Homo sapiens: one gene and its partners. The protein of the gene in region 1 purifies or fractionates together with the protein of each later gene. This does not show direct contact. Each region holds a gene or a part of one and is shown on either strand. Other genes may lie near its edges.

Region 1 (7,107 bases):
AGCTGCTTGGAAGGCTGAGGCACGATAATCGCTTGAACCCAGGAGGCTGAGAGATCGTGCCACTGCACTCCAGTCTGCACTCTGTCTCACACAAAAAAATAAAACAATAATAATAATAATTTCTGTAAAGACAGGTTTTTGCTATATTGCCCAGGATGTTCTCAAGTGATCCTCCCACAATGGCTTCCCAAAGTGCTGGGATTACAGGTGTGAGCCACCGTGCCCAGCCAGTGAACATTTTGAAATATCTGCCTTGTGTTAACTGGGTGTCTGTCCTTTCTCTTTTCAGTTGACTCTCTGTCTTGAAAGCCAACTGATATTTCAAAAATGAACATCAATGCATAGCTCCAGTTTAAAGACTTCAGTGACTCCCTGCCACCTCCACCCTGATCTAAGGGATTCAGGCTATCTGCCATTCAAGGCTTTTTGCAATCTGCTCCCGATTCCCCTTTCCAGTCAACTTGCATTTGATATCTCTGACTCACTCGTCCCTCAAAGCACCATGTATTTTCACAGCGCTCTGCTTCTGTGCTCAGGTTTTTCACTTTTGTATAATGTTCTCCTGTTATTCCCATGACTTCTAATCAAATCTACCTCTTTGAAGTTTTCCGGGTCTCCTGCCTTACCTGGTGCAGAATTAAATGCTTTCTCCATTCTGTCCCTCTGACCCTTCCCCGGCAAATCAGGGCTTGTTCTAAACTTGTCTCCTTCTGCCTCTACTGAGAAGTTTCCTTGTCATATTTACAAAAATAAGGGATATTGAAATGGAATAATCTCTGTAACTGACTCTTCAGATGCTTTCTAGAGGCGGTGAGATTTGAAGAAGGAATAAGATTTGCATACATAGAGAGTAGACATTTCAGGTGATATAAATTCTGGAAATAGGCATGATATGCAAGCCTGATGTATTCTCTTGATTGAACTGGAGGGTGCTGTTGGGGAATAGTGGTAAATAAGGTTGAAGAAGTTGTAGTGTTGAAATCGGGACAAGAACTTACACGTTTTATAGGGTGGACAGCAGAAGACTAGTTGAGGCTCTTTTTGTTCATTTAACTTATTTCTCTGTTAACAGAACTTTGGCGTGTTTATTAATTTTTTTGTAATAATTTTCAAAACAAGTGGGGAACAGTGGTATGCACCTGTAATCCCAGCTACTCAGGAGACTGAGGCAGGAGGATTGCTTGAGTCCAGTAGTTTAAGACCAGCCTGGGCAGCAAAGCGAGACCCCATCTCAAAAACAAAACACACACACACACACACACACACACACACACACACACACACACACACACCCCAAATTGCAAAGCAACGGAATAGTATTTAAGAAATATTATAAAATTTTACATAAATGTAAAATACAGCTTGTTATTTTATCAGCCTATCACACACTTTCATTTTCTTTTTATCTTTCATATGAATATTTGACCTCTTCCAAGTTTTTTTGTTTTTGTTTTTGTTTTTTTTTTTTTGAGACGGAGTCTTGCTCTATCACCCAGCTGGAGTGCAGTGGGGAGATCTCGGCTCACTGCAAGTTCCGCCTCCCGGATTCTCGCCATTCTCCTGCCTCAGTCTCCTGAGTAGCTGGGACTACTGGCGCCCGCCACCACGCCCGGCTAATTTTTTTTGGATTTTTAGTAGATACGGGATTTCACCGTGTTGGCCAGGTTGGTCTTGATCTCCTGACATCGTGATCCGCCCGCCTCGCCCTCCCAAAGTGCTGGGATTACAGGCATGAGCCACCGCGCCCGGCCCCCTCTTCCAAGTTTTTACTCAAAACTTCATTCTCAAGGAGGCCTTACCTGGTCATCTTAATTTGAATAGTGAAACACATACTCCTTATCTCCCTTGCCTGTTTATTTTTCTCCATCCCACTTTCTTTCATATGATTGTACAATATATTTTACTTATTCGCAATGCTTATTGTCTGTCATCTCCATTAGAGTGTAAACTCCAAGAAGTACTCAATAAATATTTGAATGAATGAATGAGTGAATGTATTACAGCATTGCTGTTATAATATCTGCTGTATTGTATATTTTTCCATTTTCACTTAATAGTCTGTCAGGTTTTCATCTGTTTTTCATAATTATACTTTTTGACAGTTACATTTGAGTGTATAGAATTAATTATACAATAATGGATTAAATCATGCGCCTAACGACATTTTGCTTTTATTTGTTTCTGTTCAATTCGTGGCTTAGTGTAATAAATTCCTGGAAGAAGAATTACACCTTTAAAGGATGTAAGGATTTTTTAGGGTTTTTTTTTTTTTTTTTTTTTTTTTGAGATGGAGTTTAGCTTTGTTGCCTAGGCTGGCGTCAAACTCCTGGGCTCAAGTGACTTCCTGCATTAGCCTCATGAGTAGCTGGGATTACAGGTGAGTGCTACCATGCCTGGCAGATGTAAGGATTTTTTTTTTTTTCAAGACAGAGTCTCGCTCTGTCACCCAGGCTGGAGTGCAGTGGTGCGATCTCAGCTCACTGCAAGCTCCGCCTCCCGGGTTCATGCCATTCTCCTGCCTCAGCCTCCCGAGTAGCTGGGACTACAGGCACCCCCCACCACGCCTGGCTAATTTTTTTGTATTTTTAGTAGAGACGGGGTTTCACCGTGTTAGCCAGGATGGTCTCGATCTCCTAACCTCGTGATCTGCCTGCCTCGGCCTCCCAAAGTGCTGGGATTATAGGCGTGAGCCACCACACCTGGCCAGATGTAAGGATTTTTATGGCACTTGCTCATAATAGGGAAGTGAGCATTTCTCTCCCTCCCTCTCTCTTTCTTTCTGACAAATACTTTTGTGCCCGTATATATAAATGCATTGTCCTTCAAATACTTTAGGCCCTGTCCTTGAAGCAGGGTAACCTGGGGCATTAATATATAAACAACAATTGCAATAAAATAATGAGATAAGTGCTAAGCAGATGTGTCAGAGGACAGACAGGTAGGGAGAATTAGAGAAAGTTTTCTGTGAGAGATCACAGCATTTAAACTGAGCGGTGAAGGACTTAAGTAGGCATAAGTGGGGAAACAGCATGAGTTAGAGGACAGAGATCTGAAATTGCAAGACATCTGTTGAGGCATCAAGAAGAGGGCTTGGGCCGGGCGCGGTGGCTCATGCCTGTAATCCCAGCACTTGAGGCTGAAGCAGGCGGATCACGAGGTCAGGAGATCGAGACCATCCTGGCTAACACAGTGAAACCCTGTCTCTACTAAAAATACAAAAAATTAGCTGGGTGTGGTGGCGTGCACCTGTAGTCCCAGCTACTCGGGAGACTGAGGCAGGAGAATCTCTTGAACCCGGGAGGCAGAGGTTGCAGTGATCCGAGACCATGCCACTGCACTCCAGCCTGGGCAACAGAGCGAGACTGTCTCAAAAAAAAAAAAAAAAAAAAAGAAGAGGACCTGAAGTGTAGAGTGGGAAATGAAGGCGGACAGGTAGCTTGGGGCATTGCACTGGGCCTCAGATGCTTTGCTAACATGTTTGGATTTTAGTCTGTACACAATACACAAAGGTGTTGTTTAAAGGTTGTGTCTCATTCCTTTGTAGCTGGGTAACCTCAGATAAGCTACTTAACCTCTCTGACTCTTAGTTTTCTCATCTGTAAAGTTGGAACAGCACAACTACTTAGCTAGATTATAAAGGAATAAAGAGATAATGGATATGAAGTTCTTAGCAGGATGCCTGATGCACAGTGGATGTTTACAAATGTTCATTTTTATTCCTAGTGGTTTATTTAAAATTGTACTTTTTTTTTTTTTTGAGACAGAGTCTGGCTCTGGAGTGCAGTAGCACCAGCTCAGCTCACTGCTCAGCCTCCCAGGCTCAAGTGATCCTCCCACCTCAGCCTCCCGAGTAGCTGGGACTACAGTCACGTGCCACCACACCTGGCTAATTTTTAAATTTTTTGTAGAAACAAGGTCTTGCCATGTTGCCCAGGCTGGTCTTGAACTCCTGGGCCCAAGCAATCCACCCACCTTGGCCTCCCAAAATCCTGGGATTACAGGTGTGAGCCACTGCGCCTGGCCTAAAATTGCACTTCTTGCAGAAAGAGAAAGTAAGATATTTTCACAGTATACTTAGTATGATTTAATAGAACAAGAAACCCAAGGTTCATTTCCCAGAATGTTAAGTAAGAGCCATATCTTTTATTGCTGCGTAGAATCTATTTTGTTGCTGAGGACAGATCCGCAAATGGACCTACCACAAATTGTTCATCCATCCATTTGTTGATGGACATTTGGGCTCTCTTCAGTTTTTGCTATTACAAATCAAGCTATAAGCATGCATGTACATGTCTATGTACGAACATATGCTTTTGTTTTGCTTGGGTAAATACCTAGGAGTGGAGGGGCTGGGTCATAGGATAGTTAAGTGTTTAATTTCTTTCGTTCTTTTTTTTTTTTTTTTTTGAGATGGAGTCTCACTGTGCCACCTACGCTGGAGTGCAGTGGTGCATCCTCGGCTCACTGCAACCTCTGCCTGCGGATTCAAACGATTCTCCTGCCTCAGCTTCCTGTGTGGCTGGGACTCCAGGCGTGCACCACCATGCCTGGCTAATTTTTTTTCTATTTTTAGTAGAGACGGGGTTTCACCAGGTTGGCCAGCCTGGTCTCAAACTCCTGACCTCAAATGATCCAACCGCCTTGGCCTCCCAAAGCGTAATTTCTTATGAAACCGCCAAACTGGTTTCCAAAGTGGTTATACCCTTTTATCTTCCCTCTCGCAATGAATGGGACTTCCCATTGGTGCACATCCTTGCCAACCCTTGGTGTGGTCAGTCATTGTAATTTTAGACATTCCGAGAAGTACATTCTGTTATCTCATTGGGATTTTGATTTTGTTTTCCCTAGTAGCTAACGATACTGAGTATCTTTTCATGTGCTTCACTTGCCAATCATATATCTTCTTGGGTATCTGTTCAAATCTTTTGCCCATTTTTAGCTGGGCACGGTGGCTCACACTTGTAATCCCAGCACTTTAGGAGGGCGAGGCGAGTGGATCATGAGGTCAGGAGATCGAGACCATTCTGGCTAACACGGTGAAACCCCATTTCTATTAAAAATACAACAAATTAGCCGGGCGTGGTGGCGGGCGCCTATAGTCTCAGCTACTACGGAGGCTGAGGCAGGAGAATGGTATGAACCCGGAGGTGGAGCTTGCAGTGAGCCGAGATCGCGCCACTGCACTTCAGCCTGGGTGACAGAGCAAGACTCTGTCTCAAAAAAAAAAAAAAAAACCTTTTGCACATTTTTTTTCTTTAATGGGCTGTTTGATTTCCTATTATAGGGTTTTGAAAGTTCTTTATACAATCTGGACACAAGTGCTTTACCAGATATGTGATTTGCAAATATTTTCTTCCAGTTTGGGCTTGATTTTTTATTCTCTTAACAGTGCCTTTCAAAGAGCAGGTGTCTTAATCTTAGTGAAATTCAGTTTCTCAAGCGTTTGTTTTTTCTTTTATGAATCTTTCAGCTTGACTCGTTATTGGCATGAGTGCTGGTGTACAATCAGTTGAAGCACTCACATATTGGCTGCTAAACAAAAGTATAACTTTTATCTAGAAAAGGCAGTTTAGAGGTGTCAATGAACAATATATGAAAGTATGGGCCAGACGTGGCGGCTCACGTCTGTAACCCCAGTACTTTGGGAGGCTGAGGCAGGCAGATCGCTTGAGGTCAGGAGTTCGAGACCAGCCTGGCCAACATGTTGAAACCCCATCTCTACTAAAAATACAAAAATTAGCTGGGTATGGTGGCAGGTACCTGTAATCCCAGCCACTTGGGAGGCTAAGGCACGAGAATCACTGGAACCTGGGAGGTTGAGGTTGCAGTGAGCTGAAATCACACCAGACTGGGTGACAGAGCAAGACTCCATTTCAAAAAAAAAGGAGACAAAGTGTGGAGTATATGAAAGTTGAAGACTATCTTCGGTCCAAGCCTCCAAATGGCTAAAGGAGGTATACAAAGGAAATAGCAAGCTAGAATATTGTTTTTCAATGATTGTTGAAATAATGGATCTAGCCAATGATCATCAGTAACTGCTAGCATCACAAAAGAGAGAGTCTGGCCAGGCGCAGTGGCTCACACCGGTAATCCCATTACTTTGGGAGACTGAGGCAGGCAGATGGCTTGAGCCCAGGAGTTCAAGATTAGCCTGGGCAACATAGGGAGACCCCATCTCTACTAAAAAAAACCCCACAACAGCAAGAACAATAATGAGCCAGGTATGGTGGTACACCCCTGTGGTCCCAGCTACTCGAGAGGCTGAGGTGGGAAGATTGCTGAAGCCTGGGAACCCAAGGCTGCCATGAGCCATGGGCACACCACTCACTCCAGCCTGCGGGACAGAGCGAGAATCTGTCTAAAAAAAAAAATCCTAATTGCAGAAATTCCAGTTGCTTTTGAAATATTTTCTGTTTGTTTTATTATAGTTACTAAACCGATAGATGAAGGAAGTTCAAAACTAGTTCAATATAGGACCCTTAAAGAGACTTTCTTTGACTGTCACCCTTTCTGATGGAGGGCTTAGGAAGTGAACCCTGATTCAATTGGCTCCTGGCCTTACTTAGGAAAAACAGACAAGAGGTTAGAATAGATGTTTCGATGGGTCCTTTCAAATCCCTGAGCCTGTCAATTTCTTTTATTTCCCACAGTTTAGTGAGTGGCACGATCATGATACTATGCTAGGTGGTACAATACTGCCACCTATGGAGCAACAGTAGAACTTGTTATAATGTTAACGATGCATGGATTTTTATACAATGCTGTTTAAAAATGTAGAAAACTTGCCATCCAAATGACTCCTTTGATTGGTAGGTTAATAACTGCCTCTCAAACTTATCTTTTGTGGACATCTGATTTGGGTTCACCTAAAAAAGACAAGTGTATGGAAAATGTGAATGAAAATATCTTAATAAACTTTTTGTTTTCTTAGTAGAAGAAATATGGGGACTTTGAATTGAAGATAATGAAATCATAATACTTTAGTTGTGGAAGGTACCTAAAGCATGATTCCGATGAGTGCTGTAGGATCAGTCCAGTTCAGTGTTGGCGCTCACATGAGATGGATCCATCAGTTGTAGCCACAGTGAAGCTGGGGTAGAGTGGAAA
Region 2 (8,008 bases), on another chromosome or scaffold:
TACTGCCACTTTTTCATTGTTTTCTAGTTGCTTTGGTGATTCTTTCTTTCTTTCTTTCTTTCTCTCTTATTGCCTTCCACTATGATTAAGTTAGTTTCTCTAGTAGTATATTTTGATACTTATTTTTTATTTTTAGGGCGTCTATTAAAAATGTTGTCTTTGTGGCTAACATGAGGCCTTTAAAAAAAATCCTGTAGCTATCACAAGTGATTTTAACCTGATAATAATTTGTTTGATTACAAAACATAAAACTACACCTTACCACCACTTCCCTCCCCGCATTTTGATATTTTCATGTCACAATTAACAGCTTTTATGTGCCATATACATTAACAATTTATTGTAGTTATTATTAATTTCAAGTTTTATCTTTTAGCCTTCATACTAAAGATAGAAGTGATTTATACATCACCATTATAGTATCACAGTATTCTGAATTTTGACTGTGTAATTAATTTTATTAGTGAGTTCTACACTTTTAGATTATTTTGTATTACTCATTAGCATCCTTTTCTTTCACCTTGAAGAACTCCTTTAGCATTTCTTGTAAAATAGGTCTGATGGTGACATACTTCCTCACCTTTGTATGTCTAGGAAAGTTTTCATTTCTCTGTCATTTCTGAAGAACAGCTTTGCTGAGTATAGTATGCTTGGATGGTTTTCTTTTTTTTCATTACTTTGATAATATTATTCCACTCTCCTCTGATCTTTAATGTTCCCTTTGAGAAATATGATTTGATTGCAGCACTATTCATACTAGCAAAAACATGGAATCGACTTAGGTGCCCATCAATGGTGGATTGGATAAAGAAAATATGGTGTATATACACCATGGAATACTACACAGTCATAAAAAATAAATAAAATCATGCATTTGCAGCAACATGGATGCAGTGGGAGGCCATTATCCTAAGTAGATTAATGCAGGAAGAGAAAACTATATACCACATGTTCTCAGTTATAGAGGGGAGCTAAATGTCAGATACTCATGAACATAAAGATGGAAATAATACACACTGAAGACTACTAGAGGAGAGAAGGAGGGAGGGAAGGGGACAAGGGTTGAAAAACTAAATGTTGGGTATTATAGTCAGTATCAGAATGACAGGAAAATTCATACCCCGAGCTTCAGCATCATGCAATATACCCAGGTAACAAATTTGCACACTTGGCCCCTGAATGTAAAATAACAGTTGAAAAAGAAAAAAAAGGTCTGATGTGAAGTGTATTGGAACTGTTTTGCATTTTATTTGCTTCTTTTCTTTTGCTGCTTCAGTATCATTTATTTGTCTTTGATCTTTCACAGTTTAATTATTATATGTCTAGTCTTTTTTGAATTGAATGTGATTGGTGACTGTTGACCATCCTGCACTTTGACTACATATATATATATATAATAGACACATACATATATATATAATATATATGTATATATGTATATGTATATATATGGGTGTATATATGTGTGTGTGTGTGTGTGTGTATATATATATATATATATATATATATATATATATATATGAACTCCTCAGATTTGGAAAGTTTTCTGTTATTACTTATTTAATAAGCTTTCTTTACTTTTCCATTTATCTTTCTCTAACTTCTCTTGAATGCCAGTAAATTGTCCCTTTGCTCACTTAATGCTATTCCATACATCTCATAAGTTTCCTTCATTCTATTCTTTTTTCTTTTTTCCTTTTCTGAGTATATATTGTCAAATAACCTGTATTCAAGCTCACAGATTATTCCTTCTGCTTGATCATTTCTGGTGTTAATGCACTCTATTGCACTTTTCACACTTTTCATTTTATTCATTGCATTCTTCAGCTCCTATATTAACATTAGATATTAAATGTTATCATTTTTACCCTTTGTTACATCTCTCTTTCTGGTCACTTATTGTTTTCATCATTTCATTTAATTATTTATCTGTATTTTATTAAAGTTCTTTGAGCTTCCTTAGAACAGCCATTTTAAATTCTCTTTCAGGCAGGTCATACATCTCCATGTCTTTGGGGCCAATCAATGGTATCTTATTTTGTTCATTTGGTACCTTATTTTGTTAATTTGGTGTCATCAGTTTTCCCCGATTGTTCTTGATCCTTGTGATTGTGCATTGATGTCTGCACATTGAAGAAGTAGGTACTTATTGAATTGCAGGTAGGTACTTGAATGCAGATATTGAATTTAAGGTAGGTACTTACTCCAGTTTGGCTTTGTCTGAGAATGTCCCTCAACTCTGTCCGGAAATTCTAGGCAGATCATCTGTTCTAGGTTTGTAAGCCTGTGACTGTTTCAGTCATTGCAGCACAAGGAGATGTCATAAACCCAGGACCACCATGGCCAGTTCTGCACCAGGCTGTAACCCATGGCTGCAGAGGCTGGCACAATGATGGAATGCATTCCCAACTCCTCCTCACTGATACCTGCCTACGTATGTTGGTTATTCATAATCCAAGGCTGCTGTAGTTGGCTGCCAGTGGTACAGGTAAGAACGCAAGTCTATCTCACAGGAACTATGTGTTCCTCTCTGCTGCTGGGGCAGGTCTTGCTGCTTAGGCCACAGGTATTCAAGCAGGGTCACTATGGGTGTCCTCCCAGTGCTGAATTTTACTATTATAGACTAGTATTTTGTTCCGTGAAAAAGTCCAAGCCTTACTTCATTCCCTTCCCCCCAAAAGAAAGTAGCTCTCTCTGCACTGTGCTGCCTGTGATTGGGTTAGGGGTGATACAGGAAACAAAATTGTCTTTCGTGCCCTCTTCAATGTGTATTTTTAATTATTATACTATAATCAGGTTCTGTAATATCTCATCTGGCCTGTTTAGCTTTTGAGAAACTATTATCATATGTGGATAATTATTAAATTCGACGTTTTGGAGGGTATAATCTCTGGGGAGTCCTACTCTACCAGGTTTTTCTGCCCATTCCCCAAAAATAACTATATTTGAATCTTTTCTAAGTTGTAAAGTGATTTCCCATAGAATTGAGCAAAATACATTTAAGTCCTCCTGTTTTCTTCTTTTCCTATGAGTATAAAACTTTCAGATTTTTGTGCCAATTTAGTGCACTTTAATATTTTTGCATTTTTTATTTGTCCAACAGGACAAATCATTTGATCACTTAATCTTTTCCCCCATCATAATTCCATATCTAAGATGTATGCATCACCATACCATTTTTATGCTTTCCAAATCACTGATTTCTGATTTCAACTTTATCAATACATTCCTTTATCATTTGGAAATGTTTTTTTCCACATTTCATTGAATTCAATTCTAATATGAATATAGTAATCACATGTTTTGCTTGGATTGCATTTTCCTGGTTTGTTTTTGCAAATATTGTGCCCTTTTGTTTTATCTGCATCTTTTGGACACTAGATGAGATGAAAGTTTTGTTCTTGATCCATAAGTAAGATTAATATTTCAGACTCTATTTTGTATCAGTAAGTTTGGAACAGAACAGTTTCTGGTATTTTCTTAAGGGAAGTGTGAGGAAGATTACAGTGGTTAGCAGACACAGTAATCAATTTTAGTTCAGAACAATATCACCTTACTCTGTTGGGGTTTCTGCAATAAGGAACTACTTACTGCCTTTGAGGCAAACAGATAAATTTGGTAAGATCTCAGAGTGGCTCATAGAGAAACCATGCAGCTCACATGATTTATGTTTGATAGCATAGCACTTTTTTTCTGTGGTTGGCCTTTCTCTTTTCCCCTTCCATAGAGCATTGCCTACAGGAAGGTTAAGATTCTAAGACAGAATAATTGAAAATAAGTTTTCAAGCTATCCTTTCCCCAGCACTACCCTCCAAGGTGTTCTGAATGTACACAGGGACACTGTTGGGATGCTTTCTTCTTCTCCTGTGGTCTGCTCATAACGAAGTCTTTATGACTCAAAGTAAAGAAAGTTTCTTCAGACTTTTCAGGATGTCATCACAATTGGAAAAATCTATGCTTCTACCAAAGGTGGGAATTTTAGCTTCATGTCCACTCACAATACATTATTCAATTCATTGATGGTGGCAAATATTTCTCACAGCCTGTTTGGGGATTCAGCTGTTTACTACTGAAGTAGAAACTTCTCTTAATTAAAAAGAAAATTCTGCTGTTTAGGTAGATTTCATGAAAAGAACCCAATCTAGAAACCAGCATTTTTACTTTTTTTCCAACAGTTGTTCCTATCACCATGAAAGCATATTAAAATTCTTTCATCCTTTGAAAACACATCTGGAACTTACCTCACCCTCCAGATACAGCCTCAGCTCTCACTCCACCATGAATTCAGACTTCCTGAGAAGGTTGCAGCTGGTCTCCATCCTTCAACTGACAACCCAATGCAATTGTATTCATCTCTCATTAAAGTTACTAGCAACAACTAAGAAAAACTTTGGATACATGTCAGTCTTTATTGTGTTGAACTTGACAGACATATTTGACATTGGAGTGCCCCATTTACTTGTTTAAAATTTCTTTCTTTGGATTCCATAACGTTTCATTATCTTCTATATCATTGGACTTCTATGATTGCTCATTCTTAGGTAAAATAGAACGTGTCTCAAGATCATTTTTAAAACAAAAGGAAGTATGGAGTTCTATCTAAAATAGAGTATTTAAATTATTGCATCATGAAGGGAAACTCACATTTAGAATATAAAGGCATTCTCAGAAACCAATTGCTTTTGTAGCCTGAAGCCAGTCTCTTTCCTACTTTTGTCTATAATTCTGTAAAATTAAAGTGATCTGGCATGATGATCTAAAAGGACTGATAAAAATTTGCTGGGGCTGCCAGAAGAAAGAAAATGCCTTTGACATTATGTTGCTGGGGACATTGACTTTGTCCCACACTCAGCAGGGGTGAGGAAGTTGGCATTTACTGATAAGCTAAGAAAAGTCAGTGCCTTTTGTAATTTAAGCTCCACCCATGGCACACTCACTCAAGGAAGATATAAATGACAAGGTCGGCTCAGCTCTCAGACAAGGTTTTCCAAGCAAGATGAAGCCCAACATCATCTTTGTACTTTCCCTGCTCCTCATCTTGGAGAAGCAAGCAGCTGTGATGGGACAAAAAGGTGAGTGGAGAGGGTAAGCCTTGGGGAAAGCTGCTCAGACAGCTAATAATCTAAGATTATTTGGGGTGCAAACAGTAACCTGTTTAGGCACAGATTCTTCTCTTTGAAGAGAATTGATTTTCTCCACCCAAAGCTTCAGCTTTTCTAGAAATATCAATAATTTGTTGGGGGAAAAGTGGGGGGTAAGAGTTGTAAGGGAGCTTTGGAGATAATGAATGCATACCTTCTTATTATCAATTACCAGGTGGATCAAAAGGCCGATTACCAAGTGAATTTTCCCAATTTCCACACGGACAAAAGGGCCAGCACTATTCTGGACAAAAAGGCAAGCAACAAACTGAATCCAAAGGCAGTTTTTCTATTCAATACACATATCATGTAGATGCCAATGATCATGACCAGTCCCGAAAAAGTCAGCAATATGATTTGAATGCCCTACATAAGACGACAAAATCACAACGACATCTAGGTGGAAGTCAACAACTGCTCCATAATAAACAAGAAGGCAGAGACCATGATAAATCAAAAGGTCATTTTCACAGGGTAGTTATACACCATAAAGGAGGCAAAGCTCATCGTGGGACACAAAATCCTTCTCAAGATCAGGGGAATAGCCCATCTGGAAAGGGAATATCCAGTCAATATTCAAACACAGAAGAAAGGCTGTGGGTTCATGGACTAAGTAAAGAACAAACTTCCGTCTCTGGTGCACAAAAAGGTAGAAAACAAGGCGGATCCCAAAGCAGTTATGTTCTCCAAACTGAAGAGCTAGTAGCTAACAAACAACAACGTGAGACTAAAAATTCTCATCAAAATAAAGGGCATTACCAAAATGTGGTTGAAGTGAGAGAGGAACATTCAAGTAAAGTACAAACCTCACTCTGTCCTGCGCACCAAGACAAACTCCAACATGGATCCAAAGACATTTTTTCTACCCAAGATGAGCTCCTAGTATATAACAAGAATCAACACCAGACAAAAAATCTCAATCAAGATCAACAGCATGGCCGAAAGGCAAATAAAATATCATACCAATCTTCAAGTACAGAAGAAAGACGACTCCACTATGGAGAAAATGGTGTGCAGAAAGATGTATCCCAAAGCAGTATTTATAGCCAAACTGAAGAGAAAGCACAGGGCAAGTCTCAAAAACAGATAACAATTCCCAGTCAAGAGCAAGAGCATAGCCAAAAGGCAAATAAAATATCATACCAATCTTCAAGTACGGAAGAAAGACGACTCCACTATGGAGAAAATGGTGTGCAGAAAGATGTATCCCAACGCAGTATTTATAGCCAAACTGAAAAGCTAGTAGCAGGCAAGTCTCAAATCCAGGCACCAAATCCTAAGCAAGAGCCATGGCATGGTGAAAATGCAAAAGGAGAGTCTGGCCAATCTACAAATAGAGAACAAGACCTACTCAGTCATGAACAAAAAGGCAGACACCAACATGGATCTCATGGGGGATTGGATATTGTAATTATAGAGCAGGAAGATGACAGTGATCGTCATTTGGCACAACATCTTAACAACGACCGAAACCCATTATTTACATAAACCTACCATTCGGTAACCATGTGAAAGGATGGACCAATATCAAGGTAATTTTTTTTTAGCAAATAGGGGAGATATCTCTCTCATTGTTTAGAATTGTTGGGGACTCTCCAGGACTTTTGTGGGATTGATAACCATTGTTCGCACCAATAGAAGTGCTGTATAACAAGTGGTAGGAAGATGAGCCTCCCCATTCCCTGGTGAGGAGAGGGTCTGGTAGTGGCACAGAAGGATGTTTGGCCTATCATGAGGTCCTAGAATTCCTATCCTTAATTGAATATTCTTCAATAATATTTTTTTGTATATGCCTACCTGCTAAAGGTTTTTTTGAACAGGTACTGACTACATATGCATATTTATAAGTTTATGGTATACTCTTGTCAGTTCTTATACTTTAGATTAGTAAACCTCAGTTTCTTTCCTATATAGTATAAAGGATTACAGCCATTAATGTTTTCTTTCTGCACACCAGTGAATGTTCTTGCATCCCTGTTAGGGTTCATCTATGCTCCTTCAGAGACCACAAGCCCAAAGACTATCAGTCCTCCCTCTCAGAATACAGGAAAGAGATATGTAGAAAGATCCTTGTTCATGTTGTGAAAGAGAAGATGGAAAGGGAGACACAAGAGATGGTGAGGGATCTCATGGGCCAATTGGGTGTTTACAACATCAGGAGAAGAAAACTGAAGCCCTGAGAGGGGTAATGGTGCTTCCCTGCCTCTTTGCAGTAAGTAACACTGCACTTGAAGAGAGGGCAAGCAGTAGAAACAGTGGCCCCAGCTGGCAACTAGTGGCCTGGTATCCTAGTAGTAGAGGGCTGGTACAGTTGGAGCTGAAGGGGACAGGGGGCCCAGCTACCATCCCCACCCTTCACTTTTTACTATACTCACATCACTGATTCTCTTCTTTCTCTCTAGGTGTCAGTTGACCTCAGTGAATTCTGTGATGTTTCTGAGATGCAGACTCCCGTGTAGTTTCAGATTCTTGGTCCATGGATGACACCACCTGCCCATGCTTCCTTGAATTAGGCTTTCCTAACCTGAAGCGCCTTCAAACTTCCAATAAAGAGATCATTTTCTGCTTCATCTGCTTTTGACTCCTGTTTTCTCTGGATTCCTAGTGGCTCAAGGGGTTGAGGGCATTTCTAATGTAAGTGGTTTTGAAAGAAAATAAAGGGATATTTTTGAAGCACTAGGGAGAATAGTAATCAAAGCCACATTTCAAGATATATTGATAGAAACCAACACTAAAAATAGGGTGCTGTTAGTCTACCAGTCACATGTCTACCACCTGAGGCCAACACTAAAGGCTTTCATGACCCTGGTACTAATAAGACCCCAGGAACTAAAAATATCCCAGAAAGACAAGAGAAAATGTATTGC
Region 3 (7,806 bases), on another chromosome or scaffold:
TCATCCATGGACCAAGGATCTGGGACCACATGGGAGTCTGCCTCTCAGAAACATCAAAGACTTCACTGAGGTCGGGTGACACCTAGGGAGAAAAAAGACAACCAGATATGTGAGGATAGTGGAGAGTGGGGGTGAGGATGGGAGAGCTGGGACCCCTGTCCCCTTTAGCGTCAACTGCACCAGCCCCCTGATCATTAGGACACCAGGTCACTAGTTATCAGCTGGGACCATTGTTTCTGCTGCTTACCCTCTCTTCAGGTACAGTGTTACTTATTGCAAAGGGGCATGGAAGAACCATTTCCCCAATCCAGGTTAAAATTTTCCTCTCCTGACATTGCAAGTGTCCAGTTAGCACCTGAGATCTCTCAGCATCTCCTGCACCTCCATTTCCACTTCCTTTTTCACAATCTGAACAGGAATCCTTCTTTCTACTCATATCTTTCCTATATTCAGAGAGAGTGGACTGCTAGTCTTTGGGCTTGTGGTCTCTGAAGGAGCATAGATGAACTCTAACAGGGATGCAAGAACATTCATGTATGTGCAGAAAGAAAATATTAACTGCTGTAATATTTCATACTATATGAGAAAGAATTTGAGGTTTACTAATCTAAAGTATAAGAATTGACAAGAGTATACCATAAACTCATAAATATGCATATATAGTCAGTGCATGTTCAAAAAAATCTTTAGCAGGTAGGCATGTATAAAAATATTATTGAAGAATACTCAATTAAGAATAGGAATTCTAGGACCCAGTGATAGTCCAAGCAGCCTTCCCTGCCACTACCAGGTCCTCTACTCGCCAGGAAATGGTGTTCATCTTCCCACCACTTGTAATATAGCACTTCTATTGATGTGAACAATGGTTATCAGTCCTACCATGTTCCTGGAGAGTCCCCAACTTTGGGACAGGCACCTCTCCTATTTGGTAAGAAAAGCAAACTTACCTTGCTATTGGTCCAGCTTTTCAAGTGGTTGCTAAGCAACAGGGCTATGTAGATATTGGATTTCTGTCTTCATTATATTGTTGTGTCAAATGATCATCTTGGGCAACCTCATGCTCAGTAATTACAATATTATGTGACTCACTGGATTCCTGTTTGTATCTGCCTTTTTGTTCATGACTGAGTAGGTCTTGTTTGCTATCTGCAGATTGACCAGACTTTCCTTTTGCATTTTGGCCAGACCATTGATCTTGATTAGGATTTGGTGTCTGGATTTGAGACTTGCCTTCTACTAGCTTTTCAATTTGGAAAGAAATACTGCTTTGGGATACATCTTTCTGCGTGCTCTTTCCTCCATAGTTGAGTCGTCTTTCTTCTGTACTTGAAGATTGGTATGACATTTTATTTTCCTTATGGCCATGCTCTTGATCTTGACTAGGAATTGTTACCTGGTTTTGAGACTTGCCATGTATTTTCTCTTCAGTTTGGATAGAAATACTGCCTTTGGATACACCTTTCTGTACATCCTTTTCTCCACTGTTGAGACGTCTTTCTTCTGTACTCGAAGATTGGTATGATATTTTATTTTCCTTATGGCCATACTCTTGAGCTTGACTAGGAATTCTTACCTGGTTTTGAGACTTGCCATGTATTTGCTCTTCAGTTTGGATCGAAATACTGCCTTTGGATACACCTTTCTGGATGCCCTTTTCTCCACAGTTGAGATGTCTTTCTTCTGTACTTGAAGATTGGTATGATATTTTATTTTCCTTATGGCCATGCTCTTGATCTTGACTATGAATTGTTACCTGGTTTTGAGACTTGCCATGTATTTTCTCTTCAGTTTGGATAGAAATGCTGCCTTTGGATACATCTTTCTGTACACTCTTTTCTCCATGGTGAAGTTGTCTTTCTTCTGTACGTGAAGACGGGTATGATATTTTATGTGCCTTCCGGCCATGCTCTTGATCTTGACTGAGATTTTTTGTCTGGTGTTGATTCTTGTTATATACTAGGAGCTCATCTTGGGTAGTAAAAATGTCTTTGGGTCCATGTTGGAGTCTGTCTTGATGTGCAGGATGGAGTGAAGTTTGTAGTTTACTTGAATGTTCCTCTCTCACGTCAACCACATTTTGGTAATGCCCTTTATTTTGATGAGAATTTTTAGTCTCACGTTGTTGTTTGTTAACTACTAGTTCTTCAGTTTGGAGAACATAACTGCTTTGGGATCCACCTTGTGTTCTACCTTTTTGTGCACCAGAGGCTGAAGCTTGTTCTTTACTTAGTCCATGAACCCATAGCCTTTTTTCTGTGTTTGAACATTGACTGGATAATCCCTTTCCAGATGGGCTATTCCCCTGATCTTGAGAAGGATTTTGTGTCCCATGATGAGCTTGGCCTCCTTTATGATGTATAACTATCATGTGAAAATGACCTTTTGATTTATCATGGTCTCTGCCTTCTTGTTTATAATTGAGCAGTTGTTGACTTCCACCTAGGTGTTGTTTTGATTTTGTCGCCTTATGTAGGGCATTCAAATCATATTGCTGACTTTTTCGGGTCCAGTCATGATCATTGATGTCTACATGATATGTGTGTTGAATAGAAAAACTGCCTTTGGATTTAGTATGTTGTTGGTCTTTTTGTCCAAAATAGTGCTGGCCCTTTTGTCCATGTGGAAATTGGGAAGATCCGCTTGGCAATTGGCCTTTTGATCCACCTGGTAATTGATAATAGAAATGTATGCATTCATTATCTCCAAAGCTCTCTTGCAACTCTTACCTCCCACCTTTTCCCAACAAATTTCTGATATTTCCAAAAGCCTACAGCGTTGGGTGGAGAAAAATCAATTCTCATCAAGGAGAAGAATCTGTGCCTGAACAGGTTACTGTTTGCACCCTGAATATCCTTAGAGGCCATTTTTTTAAAGTAGCTTTCCCCAAGGCTTACCCTCTCCACTCACCTTTTTGTCCCATCACAGCTGCTTGCTTCTCCAAGATAAGGAGCAGGGAAAGGACAAAGAGGATGATGGACTTCATCTTGCTTGAAAAATCTTGTCTGAGAACTGAGCGGATCTCTTCATTTATATGTTCCTTGAGTGGGTGTGCTATGGGTGGAGCTGAAATGTCAAAAGGCACTGCCCTTTCATAGCTTATTAGTAAATGCCAGCTTCCTCACCCCTGCTCAGTGGGGGATAATGTCAAAGTCCCCAGGGACTTAGCATGGGGACATAATATCAAAGGCAATTTTTTTTACTTTCAGAATCCCCAGCAAAATTTTATCGGTCTTTGTATATCATCATGCCAGATCGCTTGCATTATACAGAAGAAATTCAGTCCGGAGTAGGAAGGAGACTAGCTTCAGGTTACAAAAGTAATTGGTGGCTGACAATGCCTTCATACTCTAAATGCGAGTTTCCTTTCTGATCCAATAACTTAAATACTAAATTTTAGGTATAACTCTATACTTTGTCTTGTTTTAAAGTAATCCTGAGACACATTCTGTTTTACTCGAGAAGGAGCAGTCATAGAAGTAGAATGATACAGAAGAGAAAGAAACTTCATGGAAGCCAAAGAAAAAAATTTCAACAAATAAATGAGGCATACCAATGTCAAATGTATCTGTGAAGTTCATCACAAAAAAGACTAACATGTGTCAAAAACTTTCTGATGTTACTCACTGCTAGTAATGTTAACGAGAGATGAATACAGTTGTGTTGGGTTGTCAGTTGAAGGATGGAGTCCAGCTGAAACCATCTCAAGAAGTCTGATTTCATGGTGGAATGAGAGGTGAGGCTGTATCTGGAGGGTGAGGTAAGCTCCAGAGATTTTTTGAAAGGATGAGAAAAATTTAACATGTTTTTATGATGATAGGAACAACTGTTGGAAAAAGAAGTAAGAATGTTGGTTTCCAAATTGGATTATTTGATGATATTTACCTAAACAAAAATGTATTTACCAAAATACATTTTTTAAATAAAAGCATTTCATACTTCTGTAATAAACTGCTGAACCCTCCAACAGGCTGTGAGGAATATTTGCCAACTTCAGTTCATTAAATAATGTATTGAGAGTGGACCTAAAGCTAAAATTTTTACCTTGGGTGGAAGCATAGGGTTTTTTTGCTTTTGTTTTGTTTTGTTGTGTTGTGTTGTTTTGTTTTGTTTTTTTGCAATTGTGAAAACTTCTTGAAAAATCCAAGGAAGGTTTTTTGTTTGTTTGTTTGTTTGTTTTGTTTTTTTTGTTTGTTTGTTTTTGAGACAGAGTCTCGCTCTGTCGCCCAGGCTGGAGTGCAGTGGCACCATCTCGGCTCACTGCAAGCTGTGCCTCCCAGGTTCATGCCATTCTCCTGCCTCAGCTTCCCAAGTAGCTGGGACTACAGGTGCCTGCCACCACGCCCGGCTAATTTTTTGTATTTTTAGTAGAGACGGGGTTTCACCGTGTTAGCCAGGATGGTCTCAATCTCCTGACCTCGTGATCCGCCCGCCTCAGCCTCCCAAACTGCTGGGATTACAGGCATGAGCCACTGCACCCGGCCAGTTTCTTTACTTTGACTGAAAAAGTCCTTGTTATGAGAAGACAACAGGAGAAGCAGCAACATTTGAACAGTGACCCTGTATGCATTCAGAACACTGTGGAGGGTAGTTCTGGAGAAAGGACGGCTTGGAAACTTATTTTCTATTATTCTCTCTTAAAATCCTAACCTTCCTGTAAGCAATGCTATATGGAAGGGGAGAGGGGAAAGGCCAACCATAGGAAAAAATGCTACTTATGCCATCAAACTTGAAGCATGTGAGCTATGTGGTTTCTCTATGAGCCATTCTGAGATCTTACCAGTTTTATCTGTTTGCCCTAAGGGCAGTAAGTATTTCCTTATGGCAGGGACCCCAAAAGAAAAGAGTAAAGTTTTCCTGAACACAAATTTATTGCTGTACCTGCTAATCACTATAATCTTCCTTACACTTCCCTTAAGGAAATACCAGGAACTGTTGTGTTCCAAGATTACCGGAACAAACAAGAGTCTGAAATATTAATCTTACTTATGGATCAAGAACAAAACTTCCAACTAATCTAGTGTCCAAAAGATACAGATAAAACAAAGGTGCACAAGATTTGCAAAAACAAAGCAGGAAAATGCAAACTAGGCACAACATGTGATTATGATACTCATATCATGATTGGATTTAATGAAATTTGAAAAAAAAGCATTTCAAAATTAAAAATAAATCTATTGATAAAGATGAAAGCAGAAATCGGTAATTTGGAAAGCATAAACATGGTATAGTGCTGCATACATCTTAGATGTGGTATCATGATTGGGAAAATATCAAATGATAAAAAATAAACAAGGAAAAAATAGTAGAATATTTTAAAGTTCACCAAGTAGGAGACAGGTCACTGAGCTTGACACAGTTTATATGCCCCTGTGGCAGCACAGTGGCTATGTGTCCACACTGAGTACCTGAGAAATAGCCCTGTAACACTCTCTCCCTCCAGAGACACATCCATGGCCTGCTCAGTGGCCCTATACTCCCAATAAGAGCTTGAGAAACAGACTCACAAGCTCCCCTGCTGGGCTTGACACCACGCTGGCCCAGCTGCCGAGAGCCCATTTCCCAAACCTGAGAAACAGCCCATGGGCCACCCCTGGTGGGCATACCCAAGCCAGCCAAGTAGTTATGTGGTCATGTCCCAGGTCTGAGAAACAGTCCTACAGATTGCCTCTGGTGGTCACACATGAAGGACAACCAAGAAGCTCCATGCCTACACCCTAGGCCTACAGAATATCTTCTTGGGCCACCCCTTACAGAAATGCTCAAAGCCTAGCCACTCAGCCATGCAGCTGTGTCAAGTGCCTGAGAAAAAGCCCTCTTTCCTCTCTCATTCCCTTCCTCTCGTAGGCCATCCAAGCAGCCTTACACCCACATCTTGGGCCTGAGAAAAAGCCCAGTAGACTGACCCTGGCAGACATGTCTTCAGACCAGTTGAGAAGCTGTACTTCCACGTCCTGAAACCAAGAAACAGCTTCACAGGCCACCCCTAGCCTGTAGTCACACTCACTGACTGAACAAACATGTGCCCATGCTTCCAGCCAGGATAACAGCACCCTGGCCCCAATACCATTGAGTCATACCTTAATTGAATTACCTACCACGTGGATGCACACACCCCTGACCTGAGAATTAGCGCTGGAACCACAGCACTGGCAAAGCCATGCCACTGTAGCAGCACACTCTCTCAACTAGGGCGCTGAGAAACTCTCAAGTGCCACAAGTGTGGATCATAGGTGAAGAAACTCTATGGAAACAATACTGCTACATACACCTGCAACAAAAACCAACAAACTCAAATGAACTAACACCTAAAGACCCATTCATAAAAATAAGTTTTCGCTTATAAAATCTACTCCATAAAATTGGAAGAGGCAACTTTTCCATCAGACGCATAAAATAATAGCAGAAAACTTCTTGCATCTTGGGAGAGAGATAGAAATCCAGGTCCAGGAAGCTATAAGAACCCTAAATAAATTCAACCTAAACGGGTTCTCTCCAAGGCACATTTTAATTGCATTGCTAAAAGTCAAAGACAAAGAAAGATTTTTAAAAGCAGCAAGAGAAAAATGTCAAGTCACATATAAGGTAACCCCCATCTGACTAACAGAGAATTTCTCGGGAGAAACCTTACAGGCCAGGAAAGAATGGCATAATATATTCAAATTACTAAAAGAGAAAACTGTCAGCTAAGAACATTACCCTCAGCAAAGCTATCCTTCAGAAATGAAGGAGAAATAAAATCGTTCAGAGAGAATAAAAATTAAGAGAGGAGGGTGGCAGAACAAGATGGTGGAATAGAAGGCTCCAATGATCCCCCCTGCCCCCACCAAGGTCACCAATTTAACAAGTATCTGCAGAGAAAGATCACCTTTATAAGAACCAAAAAATCAGGTGAGCACTCACAGTAACTGATTTTAACTTTATATCACTGAAAGAGGCGCTGAAGGGGTAGGAAAAACACTTGTATCACTGATGCCACTCCTCCTTCATCTCCCGGTTGCAGGTATGGGGCACAGAGCATTTCTGTGCATGGGGTGAGAGAAAGCACAGCAATTATCAGTTAAAAAGTGGCGGGAATGAAGTTAAAGTATAGAGTCTTTATTAGTTTTCTTTCTCTTGTTTGTTTATGGAAGCAGTGTTAAGTTGTTGTCAGTTTAAATAATGGGTTATAAGATAGTATTTGTGAAGTGTGAGTCTTCCAACTGTGTTCCTCTTAGTCAAGATTGTACGGCTATTTGGGATCCCTTGAAATTCCAAATGAACGTTAGAACCCACTTTTCCATTTCTACAAGAAAGCCATAAAATTTTTGATAAGAATTGCATTGATTCGGGCTGGGCACGGTGGCTGTAATCCTAGCACTTTGGGAGGCCAAGACGGGTGGATTGCCTGAGCTCAGAAGTTCGAGACCAGCTTGGGCAACACGGTGAAACCCCGTCTCTAGTAAAATACAAAAAATTAGCCAAGTATGACAGCGTGCGCCTGTAATCCCAGCTACTCAGGAGGCTGAGACAGGAGAATCGCTTGAGCCTGGGAGGCCGAGGTTGCAGTGAGCTGAGATCGTGCCACTGCACTCCAGCCTGGGCGACAGAGTCAGACTCCATCTCAAAAAAAAAAAAAAAAAAAGAAAAGAAAAAGAGAGAGAATTGCAGTGATTTGATTATCACTTTGGGTAGTGTGCCATCTTAACAATATTAAGTCCTCCATTTCACAAATAAAGGATCTACATCCATTTATTTAGGTCTTTACTTTCTTGGGGAAGTGTTTTGTAGCCTTTAGTGTATAAGATTTACATGTCATGGGTAATTTAT

Evidence for each region.
Region 2: the proteins of HACD1 (region 1) and SEMG1 purify together in Homo sapiens (affinity purification with mass spectrometry; 3 studies listed by BioGRID and IntAct, with this or other methods). This does not show direct contact.
Region 3: the proteins of HACD1 (region 1) and SEMG2 purify together in Homo sapiens (affinity purification with mass spectrometry; 3 studies listed by BioGRID and IntAct, with this or other methods). This does not show direct contact.

Annotation. Positions count from the first base shown.
Region 1 is NC_000010.11:17,607,283-17,614,389, reverse strand, and holds part of HACD1 (very-long-chain (3R)-3-hydroxyacyl-CoA dehydratase 1), read left to right. Parts: intron 1-7,107.
Region 2 is NC_000020.11:45,202,058-45,210,065, forward strand, and holds SEMG1 (semenogelin-1 preproprotein), read left to right. Parts: upstream 1-4,975; 5' UTR 4,976-4,996; coding exon 4,997-5,072; intron 5,073-5,316; coding exon 5,317-6,629; 3' UTR 6,630-6,673; intron 6,674-7,543; 3' UTR 7,544-7,711; downstream 7,712-8,008. UniProt on the Homo sapiens protein: Predominant protein in semen. It participates in the formation of a gel matrix entrapping the accessory gland secretions and ejaculated spermatozoa.
Region 3 is NC_000020.11:45,216,567-45,224,372, reverse strand, and holds the start of SEMG2 (semenogelin-2 precursor), read right to left. Parts: upstream 3,001-7,806; 5' UTR 2,984-3,000; coding exon 2,908-2,983; intron 2,665-2,907; coding exon 992-2,664; 3' UTR 948-991; intron 83-947; 3' UTR 1-82. UniProt on the Homo sapiens protein: Participates in the formation of a gel matrix (sperm coagulum) entrapping the accessory gland secretions and ejaculated spermatozoa.